Regions from separate parts of the Homo sapiens genome. Here regions 1 and 2 are each linked to region 3. The links come from fine-mapping of genetic effects on gene expression. A gene starts in region 3. Each other region holds a variant in brackets. All regions are shown on one strand. Distances are from middle to middle.

The links. PIP is the estimated chance that this variant, and not a neighbour inherited with it, causes the effect.
Region 1: its variant is fine-mapped to the expression of PLEKHA7 in monocytes (TOPMed, PIP 0.93).
Region 2: its variant is fine-mapped to the expression of PLEKHA7 in sigmoid colon (GTEx, PIP above 0.99).

What each region holds. Positions count from the first base shown.
Region 1 is chr11:16,790,884-16,800,415 of GRCh38, reverse strand. It overlaps PLEKHA7 (pleckstrin homology domain containing A7), which reads left to right. Exons shown (of 27, transcript NM_001329630.2): 18 at 5,398-5,506; 19 at 5,702-5,928; 20 at 9,217-9,405; 21 at 9,501-9,532. Among named protein-coding and RNA genes, the nearest start is that of C11orf58, 57 kb to the right of the region's middle. RefSeq lists enhancers at 8,870-9,370, 9,371-9,532. The variant CTCTAA/A (reference allele first, on the strand shown) is at 5,094.
Region 2 is chr11:16,963,370-16,974,234 of GRCh38, reverse strand. All of the region lies in intron 3 of PLEKHA7 (pleckstrin homology domain containing A7), which reads left to right. Among named protein-coding and RNA genes, the nearest start is that of SNORD147, 43 kb to the right of the region's middle. The variant A/G (reference allele first, on the strand shown) is at 5,492.
Region 3 is chr11:17,008,192-17,019,056 of GRCh38, reverse strand. It overlaps PLEKHA7 (pleckstrin homology domain containing A7), which reads left to right and starts at 4,643. Exons shown (of 27, transcript NM_001329630.2): 1 at 4,643-4,741; 2 at 4,856-4,932; 3 at 5,011-5,068. The coding sequence starts at 4,656. RefSeq lists a silencer at 5,941-6,235 and an enhancer at 6,120-6,881.

The DNA of each region.
Region 1 (9,532 bases), 220 kb after region 3:
TAGAGCCCTGCCACTTCACCCTTAAAAAATCAGGCCACCCTATTGATAGCTGCCTCTGTCCCCCAGAAGTGAGACAGTGAAAGGCCCTGTGTGGTTTTTCTTCTTCCAAATTGGGTTCCAAATTGCCCAGTGTTCCCCCACTGTGGTGCTTAACCAGGTTTCCACCCCACCCTCACAATTTTTTAAGTGGAAAATAACCTGTTTTTTTCTCCCCTGACTTAAGATCTATATCTTCTCCTTTCAGGGCCCTGACATAATAAGTGTGTTTGAATTCAGCAAGCATTAATTGAGGCTTCTTGTGTATGAGGCACCTTGCTGGGCCACTTTTGGTGCTGGGCTTGCTAACTGATAAGATAGTTCTAACCAAGGCTCTTTGTTTAAGTGATTTAATGAGTATGTTGACTCTCCAGACATTAGCCTCACCCCAGAAAGTTGAAGGAAATTCTGGAGTAGGGTGTAGGTGTGTGGGCCCTGAGGCTTTTCCAAGGGCCCTGCTGTCCCTCTATTCATGCAGAGATGGTTCCCAGAGAGCCCTGCCTAGGACCACGTGGAGGAGACCCTCGCCTGTGGCTCAGGGCTGGTCTACAAGACTCTCCCCAGCACTTGTCTATCTCCTGCTGCTGTTGGGGTCGTTTTCCTCCCATAATTTCTCTTCATCCACACTGGCTAACATTTCACTACTCTTTTTTGTAGCCGCAGCATTTACCGTAATGACTTGAAAATACTAGGTGAATGTTGTTGACAAAGTCCTTCAATTATTTCTGGTTATGAGTTTATAAAACTGCCCAGGTTATACCTATTTTCTTGGACTTCAGTGATCTGAATTTTTTTAGCAGTAATTTTTTTTTGCTTTATTTTTAGCAGTAATTTTTTTAAGCTTTTCATTCTTTGTTCCTGTAATTACACAAATGGTACATGAATACGTGTCTTTGAAAAGACCAAAACAGTAAGAAGCAAAAACAAAAAATGATATAAAAGTTCCTCTTCCCCCTCTCCCTTTCTGCCCCTCCCATCACCCTCCCTATGTGTCATCAGTGCTATCTATTGGTGGCATTGCCTTCTAGACCATTTTCTATGCATTTTCAAAAATATGCACATGCATAGAATCATATGATTTATTCAGGAATGGGAGCAGGTAAAAGGCTTACTTGAAGAGGATCACACTTACACATTATTTGGCAACTCACTTTTTTTGTCATAACCTGATATCGTGGAAATCTTTCCAGGACAGTTAATCCAAAATTTATGCTGCCCAATAAAATATAAATTAATTAAAAGTAACTGAAATTCAAAATGTATTCCTCATTTACACCAGACTCATTCAAGTGCTCCATACCCACATGCAGCTATCGGCTACTGTCTTGGACAGCAGGGATTATAGGTTTCTATCATCTCAGAAAGGTGTATTGGGCAGCGCCAGTCTAAGGAAATTAAACTTGTTTTTCTTGACTGTTACATACTATTTCATAGTCTGGGTGTTTTCTACTTTATTTAGCCATTCCTCTTCTGATAGCATTTAATTATTTTCAGCGTTTTGCTTTTATAAATGGTGGTGTGATAAGGATTTGTGTAACTGCCTTTTCACATTGTTTACAAGTATCTGTGTAAGATAGGCTCCTAGGAGTGGACTTGCTGGGGTTGGAATGAGTATACATCTTAAAAGTTGATGGATATGCCAAACCACCTTCTAAAGGGCTGCACCTGTTTATCTTCCTACCCACAGCAAATGAAAGTACTGGACCTATTTGCTCACATCCTTGTCAGCACTTGTAATTGATCTTTTTAGTTTTACTAGTCTACTAAATGGCATCTTGCTTTAATTTGCTTTTATTTAGTTATTAGCAGGTTAAATATCTATTCGTATGATTATTGGCCATTTGTGTCTTTACTGTGCCTTATGTCATGGTGATTTAACATATAGCAGGCCTAGAATCCTTTTTTTTTTCCCCCTTCCCTCCCAAAAGCAAATAGATACACTGTGACAGGTCTTTGTCACAGACGCCCTGGAGAACTCAGCCCCATGACTTACTCTCAGATAGGCCAGCCTGGAGCCTGCATCTTGATTTCCACCTTGCCTGTGGCACTGCTCACACTTTCCCTAAGTGGCACAGTAACCTGGGAAGCTAACAAAGCCCTGCTTTGAGCAGGCACTGTGCTAGCTTCTTTGGTGTCATTCTAGGCCAGGCAGGCTGTTAGAGCCCTAGAAAAATCATCAGCACTGCAGATGCACTTGCAGCCCCATGTGCAGATTCTCAGTAACAGGGCTTAGAAATTCGCCTCCCTGTAGTCAGGTTTGGCTGCAGGAAAATAGCCTTTTCAGTCAAGGCTAAAACAGTGAGTTCAAGGCTTTGCTGAAAGCAGCACATAGGAGCCTTTCTACCCAGTGTGGTGGGAGGAGGCAGGAATGAAACTCCACCCCCTCATTTCCCCCAAAATTCCCCTCCCCTCATTATGAAGGCCCAAAATTCCATCACCGTTGGAGAAGGATAGGGACTCTCCAGCCTTTTTTATTCTCTGCTCTCTGTTCTTTTCTCACATGTGGGGGTGACAGAAAGGCATCAGGGGGGCAAGAAAGTGGCTGACAGGGGAGCTTTGCCAGGGAGCTATGGAGGAGGAAGAGGACTGCGTTTAATCCCTTTCTTTACCTGTTCTCAACACTCAGCTTGGGGACTTCAGCCCTAGAGGTCATCCTCTTACATACACATGCCCTGGGCTCGGTAATACACCTGTCTGTTTTAGGATGCTCATGCTTTGGCATGGAGCTGAGAATCAAACCCATTATTAGCTTGCCAGACCTGAGGATGTGCTTTATGTTGGAGGGGTTGAGAGAGAGAGTGAGAACTGTGAGCCCCACCTTGGGACAGGAGGCTTTGGACTTCTGTTGTCCTGGCTGTTGGAAAGTATTTGCTCAGGGAATTTTTACATGACTGGTCCTTTATTCACGTAGCATGTATGCACTGAGAACCTGCTAAGTGCCAGGCCCTGTAGGGATGGATCAATGAGCAGTATTGGGCAGGTCCATGAGGCTCATGCAGTGCAAGAACTCTTCCAGTTGAGGGGTAGCTAGGTGCCTCGAGAGGAGATGGGGTGGGAAGCCTGCCTTTATTTTAGTCCATGGGGTGGGACCAAGGCTATCTTTCCCCCATTTTAACTTAAAAGTCAAGAGAATACTACATTTGATGTTTAAACAGCCCCGTCAAGAGATGGCCGTAGTCCCTTAACCCCATCAGACCCCTCTGCACCTCTTTTAGATCCTCTTCCCATTCGATTTTGGTTGTCAGAATGCACATGATCATATAGCCTAGGTCCTTCCCCATTGTATGTAGATATGTATTTTTTTGGAGTTTATAATTTTTTTTTAATTGATATATAAAAATTGTACTCTTATTGTGCTAAAAAAATTAACAGCTTTATCATATATTTCACATGTCATAAAATTAACCCTTTCGGCTGGTCATGGTGGCTCACGCCTATAATCCCAGCACTTTGGGAGGCCAAAGCAGGAGGATCACTTGGAGCCGGGAGTTCAAGACCATCCTGGGCAACATAACAAGACCCCTGTCTCTACAAAAACTGAAAAAGAAAAAGAAAAACTAGCCAGGCATGGTGGCATGCTCCGGTACTCCTAGCTACTTGGGAGGCCAAGGCGAGAGGATCACTTGAGCCCAGGAGTTTGAGGTTACGGTGACCTTGATCATACCACTGCACTTCAACCTGGGCAACAAAGTGACCCTATCTCAAATAAATAAGTAAATAAGTAAATTCACCCTTCTAAAGTATACGTTTCAGTGGTTTTTAGTATACTCACAGCATGATACAGCCGTCACCGCAATCAATTTTATAACACTTCATCATCCCCCAGTAGAAATCCTGTATCCATTAACAGTCACTCTCATTCCCCCAGCGTCCCCTCTGCCCTTGCCAAACACTAATCTACTTTCTGTTTCTACTGATTTGACTAGTCTGGACATTTCTTATAAATGGAATTATGTAATGTGTGGCTTTTTGTGACTGGCTTCTTTCCCTCACATGTTTTCAAGGATCATCCTTGTTGTAGCATGCATCAGCACTTCATTCCTTTTTATTGCCAACTAATATTCCATTCACTACTGTATTTTTAACTAAACCTCAAATATCGGGTTCAGCTGACTTTTTAAAAATGTTTTTTATATCCTAGAGATGGTGTAAACTCTAGTCCTTGCCTTCCCTTCTGTCATGATTACATAGGACAGTGCCTTTCAAAAAAACTGTGGTAAAGGCCAGGTGCAGTGGCTCACGCCTGTAATCCCAGTACTTTGGGAGGCCGAGGCAGGCAGATCATCTGAGGTCAGGAGTTCAAGACCAGCCTGGCCAATGTGGTGAAACCGCGTCTCTACTGAAAATACAAGAATTAGCCAGATGTGGTGGTGGGCGCCTGTAATTCAGCTACCTGGTTGGGAGGCTGAGGCAGGAGAAATGCTTGAACCTGGGAGGTGGAGGTTGCAGTGAGCCGAGATGGCGCCATTGTACTCTAGCCTGGGCAACAGGAGTGAAACTCCATCTCAAAAAAAAAAAAAAAAAAAAAGGAAAAAACTGTGGTAAAATACGTAGAACATAAATTTACCACCTTTATTATTATTATTTTGTTGAGACAGGGTCTCACTCTTTTGCCCAGGCTGGAGTGCAGTGATATGATCTCGGCTCACTGCAACCTCTGCCTCCCAGGTTCAAGCGATTCTCATGCCTCAGCCTCCCAAGTAGCTGGGATTACAGGCGCACACCACCATGCCTGGCTAATTTTTGTATTTATAGTAGAGATGGGGTTTCACATGTTGGCCAGGCTGGTCTCAAACTCTTGGCCTCAAGTGTTTACCTCCTTGGCCTCCCAAAGTGCGGGGATAACAGACAAGAGCCATTGCACCCGACTCATCTTGATTATTTTTAAGTATACAGTTCAGTGGTGTTAAGTACATTCACATTTTTGTGCGCCCAATCTCCAGAACTTTCTATCCTGTATAACTGAAACATTATACACATTAAATAGTTCTGCATTCTTCCCTCTCCCCCGCCCCCAGCAACCACTGTTGTACTTCCTGTCTCTACGAAATTGACTA[CTCTAA/A]GTATGTCATACAGTATTTTAGCGGAATGGCACAGTGTTTACGGCAGTCTGTTTTTAAATTAGGTAGGCAAGCTGGACTGCTGAAAGCTACTCTGAAATTTCTCCCTGGATCGTGGGCATTTTCCTTGTCTATGCTTACCTAGAAAGCTATGAAGCAGGCTTGGTTCTAGCACTAGTGGGGTTTCCAGAGGGGATGCTGCCCCTCAGGGCGGGGGGCTCTGTCTGAAATGGTAGGATAAGTCCTAAGAAGAAACTTGTAAGGAGCTAAGAAGGCAAACCCACCACTTCGTCTTCCTCAGGAGAAATCGCAGATACAGAAAGATCTATGGAGAATTGAAGATGTCACTGCAGGCCTGAGTGCAAATAAAGAGAACTTCAGAATTCTAGTGGAGTCAGTAAAAAATCCGGGTGAGATGTTCATCTTCCTGGATGTGGGGGATCTGATTGGGGGCAGGGTGGTGGGAGGGTGGAAGGCTGGGAACCAGGTGGGTGGGATGGCCCTTGGGGAGGTTGAGTCTTCGAGGTGCTAAATTACTCCACTCATCCTCCAAGGAAGGGGGTCTTTGTTCCATCCCGTGCTTTGTTTCCTTCTATGCCCCTTAGAGAGAAAAACGGTGCCTTTGTTTCCTCACCCGCCTGTGCCTTCACTCTCAACTTCTGAGAGCAAGCCGCCCCCACAGCCCAGTCCTCCCACCAGCCCTGTGCGGACCCCTCTGGAGGTTCGACTCTTCCCCCAGCTGCAAACCTACGTGCCGTACCGACCTCACCCACCCCAGCTGAGGAAAGTGACATCCCCCCTTCAGTCACCAACTAAGGCGAAGCCCAAAGTTGTAAGTAGTGATAACTAGGAGCTGAATGCCATTGTTTCCTCTCTGTCCTCAGATTACCTTCTCCTGGGAGAGAAACTCCTGGGAAAACTTGGGGAAATGGACCCAGCCAGCGTCCTAAAGGAGTCCTTAGTCACAAGCAGTTAAAAAGTAGTATTTCCCTGCTATTGTGCCTTAGACTGTCAGAACTGGAAGAGCCCTGGAAGATGATCTAACCCAACTCTCCCATTTTGCAGTTGGGAAAACTGAGGCCCACCAAGAAGAAGTGAGCGTGCTGAGTAGGGTGGAGTTTGTGATCTGCAGAGAGGTGTGTGGCTGTGGACGAAGCTGTCCCCATGCAAACCTTTGTGCAAATCCGCAGGGGGCTCTCCTGCAGTTACACAGCCTGTGGGCAGTGAGTTCAGTCCAGTGGAAAAGTGTCCTTCCCTTCACCCGCCGCTGAGCACTGGGCTGGGTTGTGAGGATGCTTTGATCTTTAAAATAACCTCGCAGAGTATACACAGCAAGAGCAGTATCCCCATTCCACAGAGAAGAAAACTAAGAGCCTAAATTGTTGACATTTGCTCAATGTCTCCATGCTAACTAGTGAATCCAATCACATCTCCTGGCCCTTCTCTTTTATTCTGTGCCATCTGCCATCTAATTGGGCTTTCAGTCCCAGATCCGGTCTGTGGCCTCTGTGGCTGACTGGGCCAGCACCTTGGTTTGCCTGGCATAGAAAGGGGCCAAGCTCTTGGCAGAGTCTGGGAATGCAGGAGACTTTAAAGAAATAGGAGATGTGGTCAGGTCCCAAGAGAGCTCACGCCTCCAGGGCCAGGCCAGCCTTGGCTGGAGAACACAATGAGGCTGGTCCCAGTGCAGGGAAGCCATAGAAGAGTGGACCTCGGAATGGGGCCCTCCAGATTTTTGCCAACAAAGGCTTGGAGGAGACTTACCTGGGCATTGTGTGTGCCTGGACCTCTGATGAGGTCAGTGCACAGTGCTGGGTAAAACACATGAGTTCTGCTGCCCTGGTCTTCACCATCTACCTGCTTCCAGCCATAGTCCAGGGCCCAGAGCTGGACCCAGGATATGGCCCAGCACCCAGCCAGAGAGTCACTGTGGATTTCAGCATCTTGAGATCTCCTTCCCAATCCCAGATCCAAGAGGTGGACTGGAGCTCTAGCCCTAAAACAGGAGAGGGAAAATTCCAAAACAAACAGCAGGAATGTCTGGGGCAGATGGCTGCCAACATAGGGCAGAATGCTGCCAGCTGGGACAGGGCGTAGGGGAAAAAGGCACTGGCATAGGAGCTGGGACACCCAGATTCCGGGACTGATTCTCTCACTGTGTCCTCAGGCAAGTCCGTCCCTTCCCTGAGCCTCCTCATTTTCCCTTTTGTAGATGGTCACAGAGGCTCCTCCTCAGCTTGGTCATCTGTGGCTCTCAGGCAGGGCTTTCTCAGCTTGGGTGAGCATCAGGATCACCAGGAGAGGTCCTCTCTCCTAGGAATATATGTGTGTTTGCCAGTTTTACCATTTGTTTTATTACTTACTTGTTTTTAACACTTATAAGATGGGCGTGGTGCTGCTTGCCTGTCGTCCCAGCTACTGGGAAGGCTAAGGCAGGAGGATCATTTGAGCCCAGGAGTTTGAGGCTGCAGTGACCTGTGATTACACAACTGCACTCCAGCCTGGGCAATACAGCAAGACCCTGTCTCAAAACAAAATAAAACCCATTTATATTTGTGAAACAATAATATCCATCCTGAAAATGACATAAAACAGGATTATATAATTTAACAAATAACAATAAAGAGACCACCTGTTTTATACCAACAGCTAGACTAAGAAATAGAACACTGCCAGCAACCAGAAGCCTGTGGGTTCTTTCCCAGGCCAAGCTGCTTCCTGTCTGCCAGAAGTAACCACAATCTTGACTTTTTGGATAATAATCCCCTTGCCTTTTTTTTTTTTTTTAATTTTAGTACCTGTGTTGACTCCTAAACACTGTGATTATGCTGGTATATAATTCTATATACTATTTTGTGTCTTGCATCTTTTCTTCAACATTATGTTTGTGAGATTTATATACATTGTTGCATGTGGCTATAGTTCTTTTATTTTTATTTGACTTATTTTCTTGAGTTTAATGTCTTTTTAAAAATAAATTAGATAATATTCTCAAAAGATACAAAAGCAAAAGATATAAAAAAGTACATAATAACATGTCTCCTTCCCACCCTCTGCCTCCAGACATTCCATTCAATCAAAGGCAATCAATGTTTTATGTTTATCTTTCTGGGGAGCTTTTTAGAAATTGGTGATTCGGATATCTTGTCAGGATTGGAAACTGTGGATCCTCAGAGAACCAGTGCGTATCTTAGGCAGATGGCTTAACTTTCACACATCAGTGAAGATTGTTGATAAACCTTTGCTTTGGAGTGCTCTTTCCTGAACTTTCCAAGAGCTTGGAGTGCCCTTTCCTGAACTCTGCAAAATTCTTAAAAACAAAACCAAATTAGACCGAGAAAGAGGGAATTTAGGAGGTGGAAGGCATGATGGTCGTTAGTCCTGCGAGTGGGTGTTCATGGCAACCAGGGGCCGGTCTGTTGATATGTAGAGGAACCACAGCCCTCACAGAACACTGTGGACAGGGAGTTTCAAGGAAAATGTTGCATTCATCACATTCTAGGGAATGAACTGCATGGTAGGCAGTGAGTCACTCATCCTGACCGCCTGTTCTGTCTGAGTCAGGAAGGAGGAAATATTTTGTAACCATGCACATTTCTGATAGAAAGGCCAGGAGGATGTAGACTCTGTCCTTGTTCAGGTCCCCACCTTGCTGAAGGCGCCAGAGCTCGTGTAGGGCCAATGAGCCGGCTCAGGCTGAGCACTGCTGAGTGGGTAGATGTTACTCTCCAGGTAGGTGGTGCTGTGATAAGCATGGAAGTCAGGGCAGGGTTAGCAGCCTGCCTGCGATGTGCACTCCAGATGAGCGGAGGGAGCAGTTCAGCACAGCACCGAGGGCATGGACCCAGGAGACCTGAGTCCTGGGTTTCAGGACACAGTTATACAGGTAACACTTGGAGGAATAGAAACTGTATACCTCTGAGGGGATAGAGGAGCAGAGCATGTCCCTTCTTCACTGCTCCGCCAGGGGAAGTGTGAGTGCTCCTTGGCTGAGGCAGTCATGTTCTGTGGCTCTGATGTGGCCTGTTCCTACCCTTTAAACCTCCACTGTGGCAGTACCTAGCAGTCCTCCCTCCAGCTCCGTCTCGCTGACCACTGGTCTGGTTCTCTTTCTCAGCAGGAAGATGAAGCACCTCCCAGGCCCCCACTCCCCGAACTCTACAGCCCAGAGGACCAGCCCCCGGCTGTGCCGCCTCTGCCAAGAGAGGCCACCATCATCCGGCACACATCTGTGCGGGGCCTCAAGCGGCAGTCAGACGAGAGGAAGCGAGACCGGGAGCTGGGGCAGTGTGTGAATGGGGATTCCAGGGTGAGCGGGGGACCCTGGGGCTGCCACTCTACATGTGGGGAGAGGTAAAGGGGTGTGACACTGGCAGGTCACATCACCTGGGACTCTGCCCACAGGTGGAGCTGCGGTCGTATGTCAGTGAGCCTGA
Region 2 (10,865 bases), 45 kb after region 3:
AGTGTGGTGGCACAATCCTGGCTCGCTGCAGCCTCGACCTCCCTGGGCTCAGGTAATCCTCCCACCTGAGAATCTTACCCACGTAGCTGGGATGATAGGCGTGCACCACCACATCTGGTTTGAACTATTTTAAAATTTTTAAGTGAGTCTTAAATTTTCTTTCAGAGTGAAAAGTTTAAAACAAATAAAAATGAAAAATGTGCTTGTTGAATAACATTGACACTGTAAAAGGTATGTGATGATAAAGAAGAACCCTTTGGTAGAAGGTGGGAGAGGGGTCATGCAGGCTCAAGACAATGGCAGGAATGTCCTGGGGGTGTCCAAGACTGTCCAGGACTGGGCTGGTCCACAGGGAGGAAGTGGGTGATGTGGCAGGAGTGGATAGTCACCCGACTGAACAGGGCCTTTCATGTTTGATACTCACAGTGGATGGGGAGGAACACTCCAGAGGGAGACTCAGGTTGGAGGGCAGAGTGGTGACAGGGGAGGGCATGGACTTTGGAGGCAGACAGGGTGGGCTCAAGGCATAGGGCCCATCATAGGAAGCAGCTGCTCAGTCTAAGTTCCTGTCCCTCACTGATCCCCAGGCCTCACCTGCAATTGAATGAGAATCTCTGAGGTTGGGTCCCTGGCAGTATTTTCCTTTAAGCCCCCAAGTGATTTTAATGTGCAGCGAGGGTTGAGAACCATGTGGTTAGACTCTTTCACATCATGATTCAGCACAGTGCATGGCTTTTAAAAGGGGCACCAAGAGAAACTTCTCTTTTCACCTCTGCTGCCATCAGGGGAGAGTTTGAGGCAGTTGCATGGTGGTGTGAAGGGGGTCGATCTGGGAGCCCTGTGTGGTGGTCCCTGCCAAGTCTGATGTCTTTGTGTTGGTGGCCCTTTACTTGGGATTCTGGCCCCCACATCACCTCTTTACCTTGTGTGGGGCATGATTTGAACACTGCAGGTGATGGCTTTCTAGTGGCCTGTGTTCTTGCCCATCTGGAGGGAAGAAGGGGCTGGAAGGCCCTGTGAGAGAGCTGATCTGGGGCTTGGCAAGTGCCTGGTGGGATCAGAGGGAGACCATAAAGTACATAAAAGTACACATCCAGGCACTTTTTGGGTCATATGGTGCTTTCCAACATGGGCCCACCCAGTCTTCACAATAAGCCTGTAAGGCAGATGGGCCAGAAATGGAGAAAAAGGGAAACAGAGGGTCTTTGATTCAAGGAAGGAGCAAGCGAGAGTCAAGCCTCTCTCTTTTGGCTATTAATCCACTTTCTTTCTATAAAACCATCTAGGCCAATGGATTTTCTGGAGGCCTTGGGGCTTATGCCTCTTTAGGAAACACTTTGTTTTATTATGTCAAGGTGTATGGTTACTGGCCGAGGTTTCTAGTTTTTTAGGCATTTATGAAAATCCAGCTGCTGAGTCACAGCACGTGTGTAATTGTATTGGTAAGTTAATGGCTATTTATGTTTGGAGGTGTTTGGAAAACAAGAAGGAGGCAAGATTTTAAAATATGTTTTGACCAGGTGTAGTGGCTCACACCTGTAATCCCAGCACTTTGGGAGGCCAAGGCAGGAGGATTGTTTGAGCTCAGGAGTTTGAGACCAACCTAGGTGACACAGGAAGACCTTATCTCTACTAAAAACTGAAAAAAAAGAAAAAAATAGCCAGGCATGGTGGTGCGCACCAGCAGTCCCAGCTACTTGAGAAGCCGAGGCAGGAAGATCACTTGAGCCTGGAGATGGAGGCTGCAGTGAGCTGTGATTACACCACTGCACTCCAGCCTGGGCAACAGAGAGACTGGTTCAAAAATAAAAATAGCTGGGCGGAGTGACTCACGCCTGTAATCCCAGCACTTTGGGAGGCTGAGGCAGGAGAATTGCTTCAGCCCAGGAGTTTAAGACCAGCCTGGGCAACATGACAAAACCCCGTCTGTACAAAAAATACAAAAATTAGCTGAGTGTGGTGGTGTGCGCTTGTAGTCCCAGCTACTCAGGAGGCTGAGGTGGAGGATCAGTTGAGCCTGGGAGGTTGAAGCTGCAGTGAGTTAGGATCATGCCACTGCACTCCAGCGAGGGAGACAGAGTGAGACCCCATCTCAAAAACTTAAAATAAATTTGCTGGGCATGGTGGCTCATGCCTATAATCCTGACACTTTGGGAGGCCAAAGTGGGTGGATCACTTGAGGCCTGGAGTCCAAGACCAGCCTGCCAACATGACAAAACCCCATCTCTACTAAAAATATAAAAATTAGCCAGATGTGGTGGCACATGCCTGTAATCATAGCTACTTGGGAGGCTGAGGCATGAGAATCACCTGAACCCAGGAGGCAGAGGTTGCAGTAAGCTGAGATGGTGCCACTGCACTCCAGCCTAGAGGACAGAGCGAGGCCCTGTCTCAATAAAAAAGAAAAAAAAACCAGGAAAATGATAAGAGTCCTTAATGACATCTGCGAAAATATCCCTTCACTTAAAAATAAAAAAAGATATTTAAAAAAACTATAAAAGAAAAAAATAGAATAAAAATGTTTTTCTCTGTATTTGTATCCAGATAATAATTCAAATATGTATCTCCTGCCCTGACCTTTCTTGGGTTCCAGAGAAACATTTAACAAAGCCCCAAATACTCAACTGAACTTGGATATGTCCCTGGCACCTGTGTGGTAATAGTAATAGTGGTTATGGTAGTAATAACAGCTTCCATTATTGAGCGTATCCTATACAGTTCAGCACTTGGAACTCACCTAACCTGGAAAGGTTGCTGAAGAGATTAAATATCTGTATTTCAGAAATCAAACCAAACAAAAAACTTTTGCCACTTGTTGGCTAAATTAGTCATGACACCTCTGTACAGTGGATTATTATGCATCTATTAAAAATGGTGCTGTGAAATATTAACTAAGGAAATGGAAACTGTTCCCTGTACATTAGTAGATAAAAGAAAATTACAGAACAGGCTGGCATTTGGAGGTTCTCAGTGAGTGTTTAAATCCACTTACATACAAAGCTATATTGTCACTCTCCTCCTTTTATTGGTGAAGAAATTGACTTGTGTAAAGGTCATGCAGAATTTTAGATCTGGGTCTTTTGAATTAAGACTGAAGTGCTTTCTTTGTGATACTCGTCTGTTTCTGTCTATTAAAAACACAGTAAGATATTCTCTAATCAAGGACTCATTGCTATGCTCAGATCAGAAAAGTCCGGGAGACCTGTTTGACACCCACATTATTTTGTTTGCATAGCTCTTTACAGTTGATAAAGCACTTTAAAGGATATATAACTTTTTCTGATTTTAAAAGATGACCTATTTATTGTATAATTAGGAAGGCAGAGAAAAGCCCCAAGAAGGAAAAAATATTTATAATCCTGTAGGTTTAACTACTATTAACATTTTTTTCTTCCTGTCTTTTCTCATTGCAAATACAAATTTTATAAAATTGGGATCATGTTGTACATATAGTTTTGATTCTTGCTTCCTTAACTAATCTGTTATAGACAATTCCTCGTTAATTGTTCTTCTACAATGTGATTTCATGCACAGTATCTAGTTTTTGTTTTTGTTTTTGTTTTTTTTTGAGATGGAGTCTCGATTTGTTGCCCAGGCTAGAGTGCAGTGGTGCGATTACGGCTCACTGCAGCCTCGACCTCCTGGGCTCAAGCGATCTTCCTGCCTCAACCTCCGTAGTATCTGGGACTACAGGCACACACCACCACATCTGGCTATTTTTTTTATTTTTTATTTTTTACAGAGACAAGGTCTCACTTTGTTGCACAGGCTGGTCTTAAACTCCTGGACTGAAGCAATTCTCCCTGCCTCAGCCTTCCAAAGTGCTGGGATTACAGGAGTGAGCCACTGTGCCCAGCCTACATTTTCTCTTTTGATCCTTAAAATAACACCTTGAAGCTGGTAGGGGAGGATTATTATCCCCATTATAAAGGTTGGAAGCTGAGGCTTCTAGAAGTTGCCATTTGTTCAAGATAAGAAACAACTTTGGAGTGAGAAAGGGAATTGCTTTAATCCAGTGAGTCTGAGGGAGTGGAGTAGGAGGTAGGTTCAGATTCATCTGTTTTGTTGTATTATTCAAAGTTCTGAGAAAACCCCCTTTCTGTAACCTCTACCAATGTCCTGGTCTGTCCTCTGTCCCCACATAGAAAAAGTTTTCACCTTTTAAGTGTTTGAAGAGGCTCCCATGTGGCCCTATGTGTTTTCCTTTCCAGGTTAAATCATCCTTGTTCCCTCATGAAACTTGGCTTTTAGTTTACTCGTTGTCTTTGACATCACTCTGGGCATATTCCCCTTTAGCTGTAATCCTCTTAATAGTGTATGTACTAGTAAGCTCTTCAGGTTGAAAGTGACAGAAACCCAACTCAAACTAGCTTCAAGAGAAAAGGAAGGATATTGGCACCAGTATCTGGGAACTCCCAGTGTAATCCTGACCTGGCCTTGGCACTGTTGGACTCTGGTGCTCAAAGGGCATTTTGGGGGCCCTGCCTTCTCCATCTTTCAAGTCTGCTAACTCTTTTGTCAAGGAAGAGAAATGCTCACTCTCCCAGGAGCTATACATCTCTTCTTAGGGGAGATTATGATCCCCTGCTTGGAACATGGGCCTGTCCTAGGGGTAGAGCGTGGTGGCTGAACAGTTGCAGCATGACGATATGGGAGGTGTGACTTCTGCCAGTGAAGGGATGCATATGAGCAATGCATGTCCATCATATTGCAATATGTAGAATTGGTGACTGGCCAGCTCAGAATAGCATGGGATCATCATCTGTCTTTTCCTCAATATCATACTTGAATCAATTCAACCTAAAATCAAAATAGGTTCCCTATTAAGATGTAATCATATTACATCAAGCACTGCTGCTCAGCTTCTCTCTCTCCTCTTAAACTGCTGGTCTCAAATTTAGGTCTTTAAGCTTATCTCTGTTAGATTCCATATGGCTGTATTAGGTCCAGAGAATCAGCTTGTTAAGATCTTTTAGCTCTAATTCTGTCATCTGGCTTCCTGCTTCTCCCTCACAGCTCAAGCACTCTGCAGTCAGGTGATATGATGCAACTGACATTTGGGAGTGGCGGGGATGGGAGATGGGAAAGTGAGACAGCACCAGGCAGTCAGTTGCATCAAAAGAGCCAGAATCTTCTCTCACCTCCTCCCACACACCCTAAAACCCCTTCAGTTTCCTTTGCATGGCCCATAAGCTCGGCCTTCTGGGTTCATGATATATTAAAGGTCACCAGGAAGGACATCACACATTCTGCTTTTTTACTGAGGCCCTAAATGGACTTAAGTAGGAAGGACCTAGGTTAGACATTAAGAACTTCTTGGCATAGGTGGGTATGGGGGGCATATTAGAGAAAGCAGTAGTAGATCCGTTTCTGGAGGCTGTCAGGTACTAGCGTGTTCCTGAGAAGTCTGCAGTGTATAGAGTGTTAAGTGGGGGATGTGAAATCCCTATGAGGCTTGTTGAGTTTGCAGGCCTATCATGCCAGCCATTGC[A/G]TGCAAGCGCTGTTGGTGGTGGGGGAGTCATGGGTGTACTGGATGGCTTTGGCCTCCATTGCTCTATTGAAGACTCCAAACTGTGTTGTTCCGCTGCAAAAATTGTTTTTTTCCATTGTAAGCAAGAAACACAAAGCAGCCCTTCAAGGAGGGTGTGCAGGCATGCAATTCTGGCAGTATGTTGCATTAATCTGATGTGGCATGGGGTGAACCACCCCAGATGGCCTGGCAGAAACAGTTGGACAACAGCATCCAGAGGACCCCTGGAGGACAGAGGGCAGTGCAGAGAGCCTTGCCCTGGAAGGACCTGAGCCCACAGACATGGCCAGGAGGAGGCCTGATCTCAGCGCTGGCTTGCCCATGAGTTGAGCAGGAGTAGAGCTGGAGAGCAGCCTTTTCCATGTGGCCCACTGTGGAGCCTCGTGTGTGCTGTGCATGAGTCTCTGTGCCCAGAGCTGAGTCTGGAACAGTTTCCCTTGTGGTTGTTTGGGAGGAGAGGGAGGCAGATCTCTACTGATGAGTGTCAGCAGGTGTGTGAGGCCTCCTCACTTCAAGGTACGTTTGCCAAACCCCTCAGGATCTTGGCAACTGTCCTTTGACACCTAGATGACTTCCTGTGGGTAAAGCCCATTAGCAGTCTATTCCCTCTGCCTGCTCTAGATCTCAGTTGGGGTTTTGACTTGGGCTAAGTGGGGTTCTATCTATTCTTCTCCCTTCTTCTTTCCCTCCGTCTCTCCAGGCCTCCTCCTCACTTTCCTATATGCCCTGAGCCCCTCTTTCCATGCCAAGGGAGAATGGGAGGTAGTCAGACAGGAAATGACTTCCTTATCTTTAGATGGGTACCTCTTTCTGGGCAATTAGTCTAAAGAAAGGTCTGAAGTTGGCTGGTGAGGGGTGGGGTGAGGCAGCAAGCTGGCAAGTGTGTGTGTGTCAAATGGGGGTGCCTGAATCACTCTGGTGCCTGGAGAGCATAAAACAGGTGCTTGTGTGGTGCTCATTCTGGGCTCCTGGCCTGTCCGTCAGAGAAAGCTGGTTTGGAGTGCACCTGAGTGTTGCAGAAGGGGAGCTGATTGGAGGGAGGCAAAGCAGGGGTGATGGAGTAGGGGCTGTTCTCTCCTGGACTTAGGGTGCTGTGAGGCCCAGGACTCTCTGACAGGAGGTGACTTGTGCCTACACTGTGCCTTGTGAGGGGTGGGCCCCAAGAATGGAGGGCCTCATGGCATTAAGCAGAGCTGTTTCCTCCCCTCACCTTCCCCTGTGTGGCAGAGACACAGCATGACCAGCATCGCCTAGAGCTCCCCAGCCAAAGGTCAATTTGAATCACCTAGATTTTTGCTTATTTTGCTATAAGAGAACAGAAGCCAACTTGGGGAAATCCTGTGTTGACTGAGTGGTAGGGAGTGTGGATTAGCTGGGGTCTGCCCTAATGGAATGGTTTCTGCGCTATCCTAGAGGTTGCTGGAGAAATTATATTTTAATGGGAATGTTCTTTTCTAAACTTTAACTAGCAAAGCCACAGAAGCGTTTGCCAGTTAATAATGTACTTGATGAGTTGTTGAGCTGAAATTTAACAGCCAGTTTAAAAAATAAGGTAGAGAATTTAAAAACAAAGGACATTGAGAGCATGTGTGTCTTAGAATGCTTTCTGCATTTCTGTTGGAATCAGTGATTTTGTGCTGACTGGGAGAGTTTCAAGGGCCCCGTATCTTCGGTGGCCTTTCCAGGAGGCCCTAAGGCTTGGCTCCTTGTTCCTGAAAAGTAATTTAATGTGTAGCCCATTTGTAGATGAACCATTTCGCCACTTCATGAAGCCACAAGGCTGGGGCAGCTCTTCTTGCTGTGAGATAGCCCAGTGAAGGTGGTGGCAGTAGAAACGGTGGCCTGAATTCAGGCAGGCTCCAGGTGGACGACAGCAATAAAACCTTCATGGCCAGAGCAGGGGTGGGGCTGACTGAAGGAATAAAGCAGGGAGTGGAGTTTCTGCTCTGATATCTGAGATGACAAAGTCCTGCAGAGTTTGCTCTGGAAAAGAGAAAAGGTTAAAAAAAAAAAAATCCGAATGGAAAATTTAAGGAAACGGAACCCAAGGCTCCACTTGGATTCTGAGTGGTGTGTGTTACTGCAGATTGGTACCTTTTGTTAGAGGCCCTGGATCTCAGTTACGCCCCTTCTGCTTAAGCTCCCAGTTTTACTTGTGCACCCTGGCTAGTGACTCCAGATGCCCCTGAGCCTTGCTTGCTCTTCCCAGTACCCTAGTGGGCTTCTGGTTCACAGTGTGGCCCTTGGAAATGGGCTCCACAGGGTGGACTTTCTGCCTGACTCATATCTTCATCCCTCAAGGTGTGTCACACTAGTGGTTGCCTGGTAGATGTTTGTGAGATACCTGGGGTGTTTCTTATAACTGTGAGCAGCCTAGACACACACACACACACACACACACACACACACACACATACATGCACAACCATGCCTCCAGTCCCATTTCTGCATCTGTCCTCACTCTCTCCACCTCTATCCAGAGTTTTCCTTCTCCTGTGTCTTGTGCATGTGTTTGTTTGTTTTAGATGGAGTCTTGCTCTGTCGCCCAGGCTGGAGTGCAATGGTGCGATCTCAGCTCACTGCAACCCCCACCTCCTGAGTTCAAGTGATTCTCCTGCCTCAGCCTCCCGAGTAACTGGGACTATAGGCACGCGCCACCACTCCTGGGTAATTTTTGTATTTTTGGTAGAGATGGGATTTTACCATGTTGGCCAGGCTGGTCTCGAACTCCTGACCTCAGGTGATCCACCTGCCTTGGCCTCCCAAAGTGCTGGGATTACAGGTGTGAGCCACCACCCCTGGCCCTTTCTACCTGTTTTATTAAAAGAGCTGGAATGTGCTGGGCAGGCAGTGCACTGAGTGCTTTTATCTGGACTCTCTCATTTACTCCTTACAGCCACTCACTGACATAGATACTTAGTATTTTGTTGCCATTTCATAGATGGGAAGATCGAGGCCAAAAGAAATGACCTAATTTGCCTCAGAAGTTAATGGGGTTGCCACTACTCACCCACAGGTATCTCTGATTCCAAAGCTGAGCTCTTCACTTCTCGGATACAGACCTCCCTTTTCTGGGCTTTGAGCTGGAGTAGGGTATGTGTCTCAGGGAGAAGAAAATACACTGCCCATTCTCCCCTCCCCTTGCATCTCTGTCTACAGATGCCTGTCTCTCACTTCCCCCAGGAGTAGGAGAACCCAAAGGTGAGTTGGCAATAGAGAAGTGTCAGGCACTAAGGGGATGAGGGTGGTGGGTTTTGTGAGTTATTTCCCCCAGATATCTTTCTCATTGCCATTGACACAATACATTAAAATTCAGAGGAAAAAACTACAACAAAGGAAGAATTGGTCTAAGATAGGGGTCTTCAAACCTTTTTTTTTCTTTTTGAGACAGTCTCGTGCTGTCATCCAGGCTAGAGCGCAGTGGTGTGATCTTGGCTCACTGTAACCTCTGCCTCCCAGGTTCAAGTGATTCTTGTGTCTCAGCTTCCCAAGTAGCTGGGACTATAGGCACGCGCTACCACACCTGACTTATGTTTTTGGGTTTTTTTTTGTATATTTTGTAGAGACGGGGTTTCGCCATGTTGGCCAGGCTGGTCTCAAACTCCTGACCTCAAGTGATTTGCCTGCCTCGGCCACCCAAAGTGCTGGGATTACAGGCATGAGCCACTGTATCTGGCCCAAACCTTTTTTTTTTTTTTTTAAATCATGTATATCCCATTAATAAATGAGCATTTGCCCCAACACATGTATGCTCATTTATAAATTATATACATACCTGCTGTGCTAATGAAAACACACACAATTGTAAAAGGATGGCATAAAAATAAACCTGAATAGGTGTTCTACTGTTTTCTTCTAGAACTCCGTGGGTCATCTTGAGCACCTCAGGATTGAGTGCTGTGCACTTTGGAGACCCCTGGTGTCCCCCAGTATCTAAGGAATGCTCTATTACTGCAGCGCAGTGCCCTGTAAGAGAGCGCACAGCTGGCTGGACCTCCAATTTCAGGTGCTCTGATTTTCAGAAGCAGGAAAGGCCCTGCCCAGCCAGCCCTCATGCTTTTTGTCTGGAGTTTTACCAAACTGAAGGAATCCCAGAGTGAAACACTCCTAGTTGCTTCTCTGGTTGCAGTCCTTTGCTGTTACCCCAAGGCCCCTCAGGAAGTTCCAAGAGTGTGCAGACATCCTGGGGTATGAGGGAAAGGCTGTTTCCTAGGCTTGGGTACAGCTCAAGGATTGGTGAGGATGTGGAGAAATTGGAACTCTTGTGTGTTGTGCATTGCTGGTGGGAAAGTAAAATAGTGCAGCTGCCCTGCTTTGGTGGTTCCTCAAAAATCTAAATAGCATTACCCTGTGATCCAGCCATTTCATGTCTAGGTATATACCCAAAGGAATTGAAAGCAGGAGCTCAAACAGATATTTGTACACTTAGGTGCATTGCAGCATTATTCATGGTAGCCAACAGGTGAAAAGAACTCAAGTTTCCATCAACAGATGAATGGATCAACAAAATGTGATATATACATATAATTGAATATTACTGAGCCCTGAAGAGGAAGGAAATTTTGACACATGCCACAACACAGAGGAACTTCAAAGACATCATGCTGAGTAAAATAAGCCAATTACCAAAGGACAAATTCTATGATTCCACTTTTATGAGATACCTAGAATAGCCAAATACATAGAAACAGAAAGTAGATTAGAGGTTTCTAGGGCCTGAGGGAAGGGAGAAATCGGGGGTTGTTGATAACTAAGAGTGCTTCTGTTTGAGGTAGTAACAAAGTTTTAGGAACATAGTGGCGTTGGTTGCACAACATTGCGAATATAATAAAGTAAGAATAAGACCTTAAACATAAAAGCAATGAGAGGTGGCTGGGGGCAGGGTTGGAGAAACAGGTAGTTAATTCTTTTGTCCAAATGCAGTGCACCTACTGATCAGATGCCAGGGTGTCCCTGTCCTTTTGGATACCTGCTGCCAGATTAGGGCTACTCGAATGGGACACTTGTGGCCACACCCTGGTCATTCTGACTGGCTGTACAAATAGCTCTCCTGGCTCCCCAGGGGACATGTTCATCAAGATTTAGGCCACAAAGTAGGGCCGTTTGTTCCCCCTCTTGCCCCTCTCCCCAGTCAGCTGACGACAGCTCCAGTGTTGCAGCCCAGCACCCCAGGATGGATGACACACCTCCCTGGTGCTCCATTGTCAGGGCTCTCTGATTTGCAGAAACAGGTAATAGTTTCTGTCTATGGTTTGGAATCATGAAGTAGGGCAAGACAAGTTTCTTTGGAGTTAAATTTAGGGCTTAGAATCCAGGGGGTGGCTGAGTAAAGCTG
Region 3 (10,865 bases):
AGAATTATGGTCAGTGCAGTGGCTCATGCCTGTAATCCTAGTACTTTGGCAGGCCAAGGAGGGTGGATCACTTGAGGCCAGGAGTTCAAGACCAGCCTGGCCAACATGGTGAAACCCTGGCTCTACTAAAAATACAAAAAAATTAGCCAGGCGTGGTGGTGTGTGCCTGTAATCCCAGCTACTTGGGGGGGCTGAGGCATGAGAATAGCTTAAACCTGGTGGTGGAGTTTGCAGTGAGCCGAGATTGTACCACAGCACTTTAGTCTGGGTGACAGAAGGAGGCTCTGTCTCAAAAACAACAACAACGACAACAACAAAAACAAAACACAAAACCCCAGAAAAATATAGAATTATTTCATCACTACAAAGATCTCCCTCATGCTATTCCCTTGTAGTTACATCCTTACATCCTCCCACTCCCCACCACCATCCCTAACTCCTGGCAACCACTAATAATCAGTTCGCCATCTCTACATTTAAAAAAAATATATTTTGAGAACATTATAGACCTTTTCAGATTGGCTTTTTTTTTTTCTCAACATAATGTCTTGAGATCCATCCAAGTTGTATGTATCAATTCCTTTTCATTACTGAGTTTTATTCCATGGTATAGATATATCACAGTTGTTTAACCATTTACCTATCATAGGACATTTGCTTATTTCCAGTTTTTCCCTATTACAAGTAAAGTTGCTGTGAATAATTATGTACAAGTTTTTATGTGGAAAAATGTTTCATTTTTCTGGGATAAATGCCTAGGAGTGTGAATACTGGGTTATATGGTAAGTAAGTGTTTAGTTTTTGGCTGGTCTCAGTGGCTTGCACCTGTAATCCCAGCACTTTGGGAGGCTGAGGTGGGTGAATCATTTGAGGTCAGGAATTCAAGACCAGCCTGGCCAACATGGTGAAACCCTGACTCTGCTAAAAACACAAAAATTAGCTGGGCTTGGTGGCATATGCCTGTGATTCCAGCTACTCGGGAGGCTGAGGCAGGAGAATTGCTTGAACCCAGGAGACAGAGGTTGCAGTGAGCTGAGATTGTGCTGCTGCACTCCAGCCTGGGTGACAGAGTGAGACTCTGGCTCAAAAAAAAAAAAGTTTCCTTTTTAAAGAAACTGCCAAACTATTCTTCAGAGTGGCTGTACCATTTTACATCCCACTAGCAATGTATGAGACATAAAGTTTCTCTGCATACTCTTTTGTCACTATTTTTTATTTTAGTTTCTAACATATAATTTTGAAAATCAGTGATAGGCATTGAGTTTTATTGATTACATATTTTGGCATTTATTGAGATAATTTCAGTGTGTCTCTTATTGGACCTATTAATGAATTGTATTATTCTATGTATCTATATGTATATGTTTTAAATGATAAAAAGATCAAACAGTATGAAAGGGGAAACAAGGTAAAGTAAATCTCGTACCATTCCTATTAGAGTTTCCCTCCTCAGAGGCAATCACTTTACCTGATTCTTGACAGTGTAGGGACTATATCTGTATGTTAACAGTAGCATATCACATGCACAGTACTGTAGCCTGCCTTTTCACTTTATTTATTTATTTATTTAGAGATGATGTCTTGCTCTGTCACCCAGAATAGAGTGTAGTGGCCCAATCATAGCTCATTGAAGCCTCAACTTCCAGGGCTCAAGTGATCCTCCCACCTCAGCCTCCCAAGTAGCTGTAACTATAGGTATGCGCCCCATGCCTGGCTAATGTATCTTTTGTAGAGATGGAGTTTTGCCATGTTGCCCAGGCTGGTCTTGAATTCCTGGACTCAAGCCATCCTCATGTTTCAGCCTCCCAAAGTACTGGGATTATAGGTACAAGCCACTGCATCTGGCCCATTTAATATCTTACAGACCATTCTATATCAGTACGTAGGGATCTATTCTCATTCTTTTTTACAGCTTGCATAGCATTCTGTTTTTGTTGTTGTTGTTGTTGAGGAATGTGCCAGTTTAATCAACCAGGTCTTTTTTGATAGACATTAAGGTTATTTCCAGTTCTTTGTAATTACTGACAATGCTGCAGTGAATACTCTAGTACACTGGAATTTGTGCCCCATGTAAGCACTAATGTAGGATAAATTCCTGACATGAAATTGCTAGGTCAAGACATTGAGGTTGGAATAGCTGTGCCAAATTGCCTTCGAAGAGGCTCAAACATTTTAAAGTCCCATCAACAATGAACAAGAATGTCTTTCTCTACAATATCTTTTCTTTCTTTCTTTTATGAGACAGAGTTTCACTCTGTCACCCAGGCTGGAGTGCAGTGGCGTGATCTCTGCTCACTGAAACCTCCACCTCTAGGGTTCAAGTGATTCTCCTGCCTCAGCCTCCCAAGTAGCTGGGATTACAGGCATGCACCACCATGCCCAGTTAATTTTTGTGTTTTTAGTAGAGACAAGGTTTCACCATGTTGGCCAGGCTGGTCTCGAATTGCTGATCTCAAGCGATCCACCCGCCTCAGCCTCCCAAAGTGCTGGGATTACAGGCGTGAGCCACCACGCCTGGCCAATATCTTTTCTAATTTATCTTTTCCAATCTGACATCTAAAAAAATAGTATTTCACCGTAAGTTGCAGTTCTTCTATTATGAAGTGGCTCAGTATCTTTTCATTTGCTTAAAAGTTATCTGTATTACTTTTCTATTAACTGTGGGTTCATACCCTTTGCCCATTTAATGTATTATTTAAAATCAATGTTTAGCTAGCAAAACACCGCTTTCCTATTTTCATTTGCTCAACAACCTCCTCAGAGGCAGGAGGTTCCTTCAGACAGGTGTCCCCCGTCCTCTGCAACCAGTTACCTCTTCTAACTCATAAATGCCTCCTTCCCCAACACCACTGTCTGTTCCCAAGGAAGGGCCCCTTTATGGTCTCATCAACATCTCACAGCCCTCCCAAAATTATGTGCATGCTCTCCCATCCCTCCCCTCTGGAGTGCTCTTTTCCCAGTCAAACCTAACCAGTCCTTCAGGGTCCAGCCTAATTCCACCTGTTTGGGCACCTTTCTGAATAACTAGTGCTCACATTGCATACAGTCTCACTTTCAGGCGCGCCTCCTCCCATCAATCAGAGCCTATGTCCCGAGAAGGCTGGGCCTGACAACAGCTGGAGCCCAGCTGCTGCTCTGTCTTTGCTCAGTGTGTGTGTGTGTGTGTGTGTGTGTGTGTGGCCGGGAGTCTGAGTGTGGAGTATGTTTCATTCACTCATCCTGCAGTTTTTTTTTTTAGACTGAGTCTCGCTGTTGCACAGGTTGCAGGGCAGCGGCGCGATCTCGGCTCACTGCAACCTCTGCCTCCCTGGTTCAAGCGATTTTCCCGCCTCAGCCTCCTGAGTAGCTGGGATTACAGGCGCCCGCCACCACGCCCGGCTAGCTTTTGTATTTTTTTGGTAGAGACGGGGTTTCACCATGTTGGCCAGGCTGGAATAGAACTCCTGACCTCAAGTGATTCACCCGCCTCGGCCTCCAAGAGTGCTGGGATTACAGGCCTGAGCCACCGTGCCCCACCCCATCCTACAGTTATTGAATGCGTAATGCATACATGAGTCAGGTGCTGTTCCAGGCATTGGAGACCAGGCAGTGTATGAGGTAGATCAAAGCCCCTTCTCTCATCCAGCTGACATGTTGGAACTAATATACAACAAACAAGACAAACACAAATATCAATTAAATGTAAACAAGTAATGAAATAGCGAGGGAAGGAGGGGAAGGATTTTCTTTGCAGAGGGCTCAGGGAGGGCTCCCCGAGGAGATAAGATAGGAGTAAAGACCCGAATATGAGAGGGTGCCGCCACTGCAAAGAGCTTTGCAGGGCCCCCTAGAGGCCCCGCCTGGCCACCGCTCTTCCAGAGATGGACGTGCTGCCGAGCCCTCAAAACCCCTTTTTTCTGTTACTTGACAGAAACTGAAGGCAAGAGCTTGCGATCCCTGCAACCTCAGTGGTGTGTGGCGGTAACCCTGCTCCCTCCTGTTTCACATCCCAGCTGAAAACTTGGGAAAATGAAATCGCGCTCGGCCTGCCGTTGATAGAGCACCTACTACATGCCATGGTCCGGTTAAGCACTTTATGCGATTGTTACTTCATTTAATCTACACAACAATCCCGTGTGGACTCGATTAACCTTACAGGGGAAGAGAAGGAGGCTGGGAATATGGCAGGAACCTGAGTGTTAACTTGGTTCACACACAAGCGGAGTTCCCGGGTCGGGAAGTTCTGTGGTGCGGGTCGGCTGGGGTTTACTGAGCGTTCGGGCGCTCGCCGTTTTCGGAGTTGGTCGGGTCCAACCGCGCGCCCCGAAGCTGCCCAGGCGCGCCCGCCAGCGGCCCCCGCCAGCGGCCCCCCGCGCCGCCCGGGTCTCCCGGCCTCGGGGGCAAAGGGGAGCGCCGGTGCCAGCAGGCTGGGGGCGGGGAAGGCTCGGGGACAAAGGCCGCGGGCACTGCGCTGGGTTGGCCGGAGCGGCTGCGAACTCCGGGCGCCAGGACCCGGCCGGGCGGTCGCTCCCTCAGGAGCCCGCGCCTGGATGGAGCGCCTCGCGGCGCCGCCGGGCCACGCGCAGGCCGAGCCCCCGCCACCGCCCCCGCCTCCGCCCCTGCCCGCGCCCCCGCCCCCTCCCCCCCACCCCGCGGCGGCTCCGCGCTCGGCGAACATGGCGGCGGCGACGGTCGGGCGGGACACTTTACCTGAGCATTGGTCCTACGGGGTGTGCCGGGATGGCCGCGTCTTCTTCATCAAGTGCGGCGCGAGGACCCGGGGACGCGGGGACGCGGGTGGGGGCGCGGGGGCGGGGGCCGGGCGGGCACCCGGCGGGCTGTGGCGGCGCTAACAGGTGCACCTCTCTGCCCGCAGTGACCAGCTCCGCTGCACGACCTGGCTGCATCCGCGCACCGGGGAGCCCGTCAACTCGGGCCACATGATCCGCTCAGGTGGGCGCCGGGCCGGCGGGTGGGGGGCGCGCGCAGCGGCGGCCCAAGTTTGACCCGACTTTTCTGGCGTTTCCGCAGACCTGCCCCGCGGCTGGGAGGAGGGCTTCACGGAGGAGGGCGCCAGCTACTTCATCGAGTGAGTGAGTGGGGCCGCCGCGCTCGCACCTGTGCCGCGGGGGGGGGGTCCCTCCCCGTTCCCGCCGGGCGCCCCGCCCTTCCTCTGCTCCCGCCGGCCCGGGCTCGTTGGCGCGCGCTGCGCCGCGGCCACACTCAACGTTTTGTGTGCCCAAGTTGTTTGGCGGCCTCCGAGAGGAAGGCGGTGGGGGCCGCACCTACGCTGGGGACCTGGGCCGGGGGGGAAGAGGCCGCAGACTCTGCGCCCTGGACCTTGCAATCCGGCTGGATTCGGGTGCTGGTGTGCGGGCTGGGCACGCCTCCCCTCTAGGGTCTGGGGCTGCGCCCCGCCGGGAGAGGCGAGTGCCGGGACCTGGATGGGCTCGGGTGGGAGGAGTAGAACGAGAAGTTCTGTCCTGGTGTGGGCCTGCGGGGTTGGAGTGGGGAGAGGGAGAGACTAGGGGAATCTCGCTTAGGAGGACGCCCCCTCTCCCGCCGCAGGCTCTGGGATGGTCTTGGAGAGTCGGAACCTCGCCCCCGGCCTCCATCCACTGCGCGGGCCTGCGGGGAGGGAGGGGGTGGGGAAGGGAACTGGTCAACCAATGACTTTCCTCGAGCGCTCCGCGTCTCTTCGGCCGGAGCTGAACCGGGGGATTGCTGGTGCTTCCGTTAGTCCACGGGCGACTTTTCCGCAAAAGCCCCGGAGTGTTGGCGCACCAGCCAGGTTACCCTGGGTCTGTAGGATCAGTCCATGTCAGATTGGGGCGCAGTAAGTGAAGGCGCGGGTCAGGCTCCTATGCCAGTACAGGCTTTGCTTTCCCACTCCGGCGGGAGTCTGTGTTGCAGCGTGTTTCCCTCTGCCTGCTGAGCTCCGGGAGGCCAGACACTGCCTTTGACCCCTTGCCCCAGTGCCGGACAGCAAGTAGGCACTCGGTAAATGTTTGTTCACTGAATGAATCAGCTCGCCAAAGGTCTGGACGGTGGTCTGACTAGTACTGACTGGGTGTACCTCGGCGACTGTGAGTCAGAACTACTACTGTTAGGAATAAAGCAGCCTATTTCAAGAAAACCCCGGAACCTCCTTTTCTGGTTTGGGTTCTTGCATAATAGTTGAAAATACTGATGGGTGAGATTTACAGACCTAAGGACTAGGGCCTTGCTGCGGTTCTATTGCCCTGCCTCATATGTGTGTATGTGAAGTTGGGGAGTTGGCTGGGGCCATCAGAGTCTTGCTGTCAGTGGGCCTCTCTGGCTCATAACTGCATCAGTTGATGTTATTACAATTTTCCTGTGTGCCACACGTTCACACGTTGTTCTAGGCATTGGGAACAAAAAACAGAAAAGTTCTAGGTGCTCATGGAGCTTGCAATCTAATAGGAGAGGGAAGGGAGTAGAAAATAAGTAAAAAACACAAATAATAATATCAGATCGTGGTTACTACTGTGCAGAAAGTTAAAATAAGGTGATGTGACATGGAGTGACTGGGTGGCTTGGTTGTACTGGGAGATCGGGATGGTGTTTCTGAATAGGCAACATTTAAAGTAAAATTTGAATGACAAGAAGGAGACATCATGTGATGATGAGTTGGCAAAGCATTTCGGGAAGAGCGAACAGCCAGGGCAAGGGCTTAAGGCAGAAAAGAGCTTGGAGTTTAAGGAGCAGGAAGGCTGGAATGTGGTGCACAAGGGAGAAAGTGGCATGAGGAGAGGTCACAGGTAGGAGAAAGGTAAATGCCGCAAAGCTTTGTGAGCCGGGGTGAGGAATTTTCATACTTTATTCTAAGCCCAGTGAAACGTCATTGGAGGGTTTTAAGCAGGGAAATGGCATGATTTGGTGTGTGTTTTTAGAACGATCACTGTGAGGAGATTGGATTGTAGGTGGCCACTGCAGGGGGAGGCAGGAGAGCAGCTGAGGCTGTTGCCCTCTTCCAGGCAGGAGTTAGAAGTGGCTTGCCTGAGGGTGGTAGCACAGTAGACAGGGAGTAGTGGTCACATTCAGGCTGTGTTTAGGAAATAGGCTCTTCACACCTTCATGATGGACTGAATAGTCTGTGGGAGAAAGAGAAGAGGCAAAGATGACTCCTCAGGGCTTGGGCACCTGAGTGGATAGCATTCATATCGTTGAGATGGGAAGAGCCGGTTTGGGGTGGAGGAGAATCATGAGATCTTGTTTTGCCATCTTACATTTGAGATATGAGTATGTCAGATAGTGTGATCTGAAGCTTGGTGGGGAGAGAGGACAGAAGAGACCCATTGGGTATAATAGATGTTATTCAAGGCCATGGGATTAGATGAAATCCCCTAGGAAGAGAGTACAGACAGAAGAGAGATGTTCTGAGGCTTTGGATGGTCAAAGCAGTGTTTAGAGGGGTGAGAGGTGAAGCCAGCAAGGAGACTGAGAAGGACTGAGAAGGTAGGAGAAACCCCAGGAGAATGCATGGTCACAGAAGCCTTAAAGGACAAAATCTGACTGGAGTAGGTGGAAGATAAAACACGGGGTGAAGACAGGGAGTCAGTTAGGCAAATCTTCCAGGTAGTTTTGTTGCAAAGTGGAGTTGAGACATTAGCCGGTAATTGGAGAGGATGTGGGTTTGAGGGAGGGTTCTTTTTTTTGGTGGGAGATTGTACAGCATGTTTGTTTTGATGGGAATGATCCCACTGAGAGGAAGAAGTCGATGCTGCAGTAAAGAGACGGGGCAGTTGCTGGAGCAGTGTTTCTAAGAAGGTGAGAGGGATGGGATCCATGGCCTGCATCTCACTAGCGTCACCCAGGGGCAGGGCCCATCATTCATTTGGCGGGAGGAAGGGCTGCAAGTGTCCCAAAGTACCAGGTGCAGCCTTGGGCTGGGTGTGTGAGGCCGCGTGTGGGACTCTGGAGGCTGGAGCACAGCCTTCCACACCTTTGCTGACTCTTCCATGGTAACTTGTCTGTGAGGTCCCTAATGATTTTCCTACAGTGAGCTCCTGTGCCCCCAGGGCCTTGGCTGACTCCTCCCAGGCCTAGAAAAAGCAATGTGTGACAGTGTTCCCTACCCTCAAAGGCAGGGCCCTGTGGCAGGTGATTGTACTTCTGACGTCCTTCTGTGACAATTTTTTGAGAGACTTAAGGGTTTTGGGAGTAATTGTTCTCTCCCTCATCCCCCGCCCCCCACATGAAAAATGTTTTACTGTTGTCTGATTTCTTAGCTTTGCCGTGAGCATTTCTGAATGTTTGATTTTTGTGTTGAGGGCAGGAGCCTCCTCTAATCTGGCTCATAAAGTGAGAGCGACAAAGCATTGACATGGCTGATTTTATTTTTCCTAATGGCTCCTTGCACAGGAAAGTTGTGTGAGGTTTTACAGGATGTATTCAGTTGCTCCTCATATTTAGCAGATTAAAACATTTTAATTTTTGAAAAAATTTTAAGAAACAGAATCTTCCTCTGTCTCCTAGTCTGGAGTGCAGTGGTGCAATCATAGCTCACTGCAGCCTTGAACTCCTGGGGCCAAGTGATCCTCTCACTTCAGCCTCCCAAGTAGCTGGAACTACAAATGCAGGCCACCATGCCTGGCCAGCAAATGTTTTAATACTCTCCAGAGTCCATTTCTTTTCTTTCTTTTCTTTTTCTTTCTTTTTTTTTTTAAAGACAGCTTTGCTCTGTCGCCCAGGCTGGAGTGCAGTGGCACGATCTCAGCTCACTGCAACCTCTGCCTCTTGGGTTCAAGTGATTCTCATGCCTCGGCCACCCCCTAAGTAGCTGGGACTACAGGTGTGCACAACCATGACTGGCTAATTTTTGCATTTTTAGTAGAGACAGGGTTTCACCATGTTGGCCAGGCTGGTCTCAAACTCCTGACCTGAAGTGATCCGCCTGCCTCAGCCTCCCAAAGTGCTCGGATTACAGGCATGAGCCACTGTGCCTGGCCTCGGAGTCCATTTCTTGAAGCAGAAAAGCTTGAGGTTAGGCAGGTGAATTTTTGTTTTGATTTCTGCACTTTTTGTTCAATTTTGCATTAATGAGGGACAAAATGTATAAGAAATCTACTGTTGGTTCTCCCAGTTCTAGACTAAGTGATGTTGATAACCCCTTTAAAAAGATTTTTTGGCTGGGTATAGTGGCTCATGCCTGCAATTCCACACTTTGGGAGGCGGAGGCGAGGGGATCACTTGAGGCCAGGAGTTCAAGATCAGCCTGGGCAACACGGAGAGGCCTCATCTGTACAAAAAATGAAAAAATTAATGGTGGTATGCTCCTGTAATCCTAGCAACTTGAGAGGCTTAAGTGTGAGGATTGCTTGAGCCCAGGAGTCTGAGTTTACCATGAGCTATGATTGTGATACTGTACTCCAGCCTGGATGACAGAGTGAGACCCTGTCTGTAAATAAATAAATAAATAAATAAATAAAACGAAGACTTTTTGTACTCTAGCACTTCTCTACTATGAATCCCTTAGCTGGGTAGCAAGGTATAATAGTAATTGTGATAATAGTGTCATTAACAGAAGTAGCAATAATAGTAGTAATAATTATATAACAGCCTAATCTTTTTGGGTCTTTGAAAAATGCTAGGAACTGTTCTGTAACTGTCATTGATTTAATTCTCACAATAGTTTGATGAGGTAGGAACTACTACTAGTTTCGTTTTACAGACATAGAATCTTGCCGTAATCCTGGACATTCCTATAGCAGATGGTTTTTTTTCTTGTGTCTTTTCTTATTTGATCCTTATAGCAGCCCCTGGAGGCAGGAGGGGAAGAATCATCCCCATTCTTCAGATGATGAAACTCAGGTCCATGAAGGTTCAATGATTTTGCTGAAGTGTTAGAGCTGGGACTGGAACATAGGTCTTTGGTCCCTCATGTGATAGCCACAGTAGTAGTGGTAGCTCCTACCCCAGGCCATGCATCTTGAAGGAGATGAATGCCCATATGCCATTGCTCTGAGTTAGGCTTCCCCAAGGCTTATGGGGCCAGACTCCATCTTTGCTTTTTCTGGGGATTGAGGTACTTTGGAAGGGCAGTACCCCCTGGTCTCCTATGTTGATTAGGGGTGGTACATGTCTCTGATTAGTAAGAAATTGAAGACATTGATTATTAGTAAATACAATTTGGCAGACACAGCTTTTTCAAACATGGGACCTATGAGGGAGAAGTTTCTAGAAGAGGCCATGGGAGTTAGAGTATTACACTGGGCTGCTCTTCAGGGGTTTCATGGAACCTTGTGAATTCCGTTCCCCCTACAGCAGGCATTAAATAGGTCATGAGGCAATGAGGAGATGGCAGAGAAGAGGGGCTCAGCCACCTTGCCTGTGCCAAGGCTGTTCCTTGAAGGCAGGCATCTTATTCCCCACTTCTGTGACTTAGGCACCCAGCCCAGGGCTGGGAGCTGAGTAGGCACTTGGCATCTCTTGAGGAATCAGTGTTTTAAAGAGACCCAATGAGTTTTCTAGGTATTCCAGGTCTTGGAAAACTCCTTACTGGGAAGGAGATTGGGGTGGAGGAGAATAAGCAAGGTGAGAGAAGCTCAACAGCCAGGAACAGGCCTGTCAAGGCTGGTGCCTAGACCCAGGCTTCTTGGATACAGTCGCTTGCTGTTGAGAACAATGCTCAAAGCAGGAAGCTGGCTGGTGGAGGCTCAAACGGCCTCCTCTGCGTCTTCATTTCATATCCTTATTGCTCTGCATCTGGGACTGGGATACCTGTTGGCTACTGGACTAGGCTGTCTTCCTTCCCTGGCTGCTGGGCCCTTGGCATCATCTGTGACTTGGCACAAGGGTGCTGGCAGGAACCAGCTGATTGCACAAGACCCTTTCTAGCTTCAGGTTTCTCAGTTTTAGCTTTG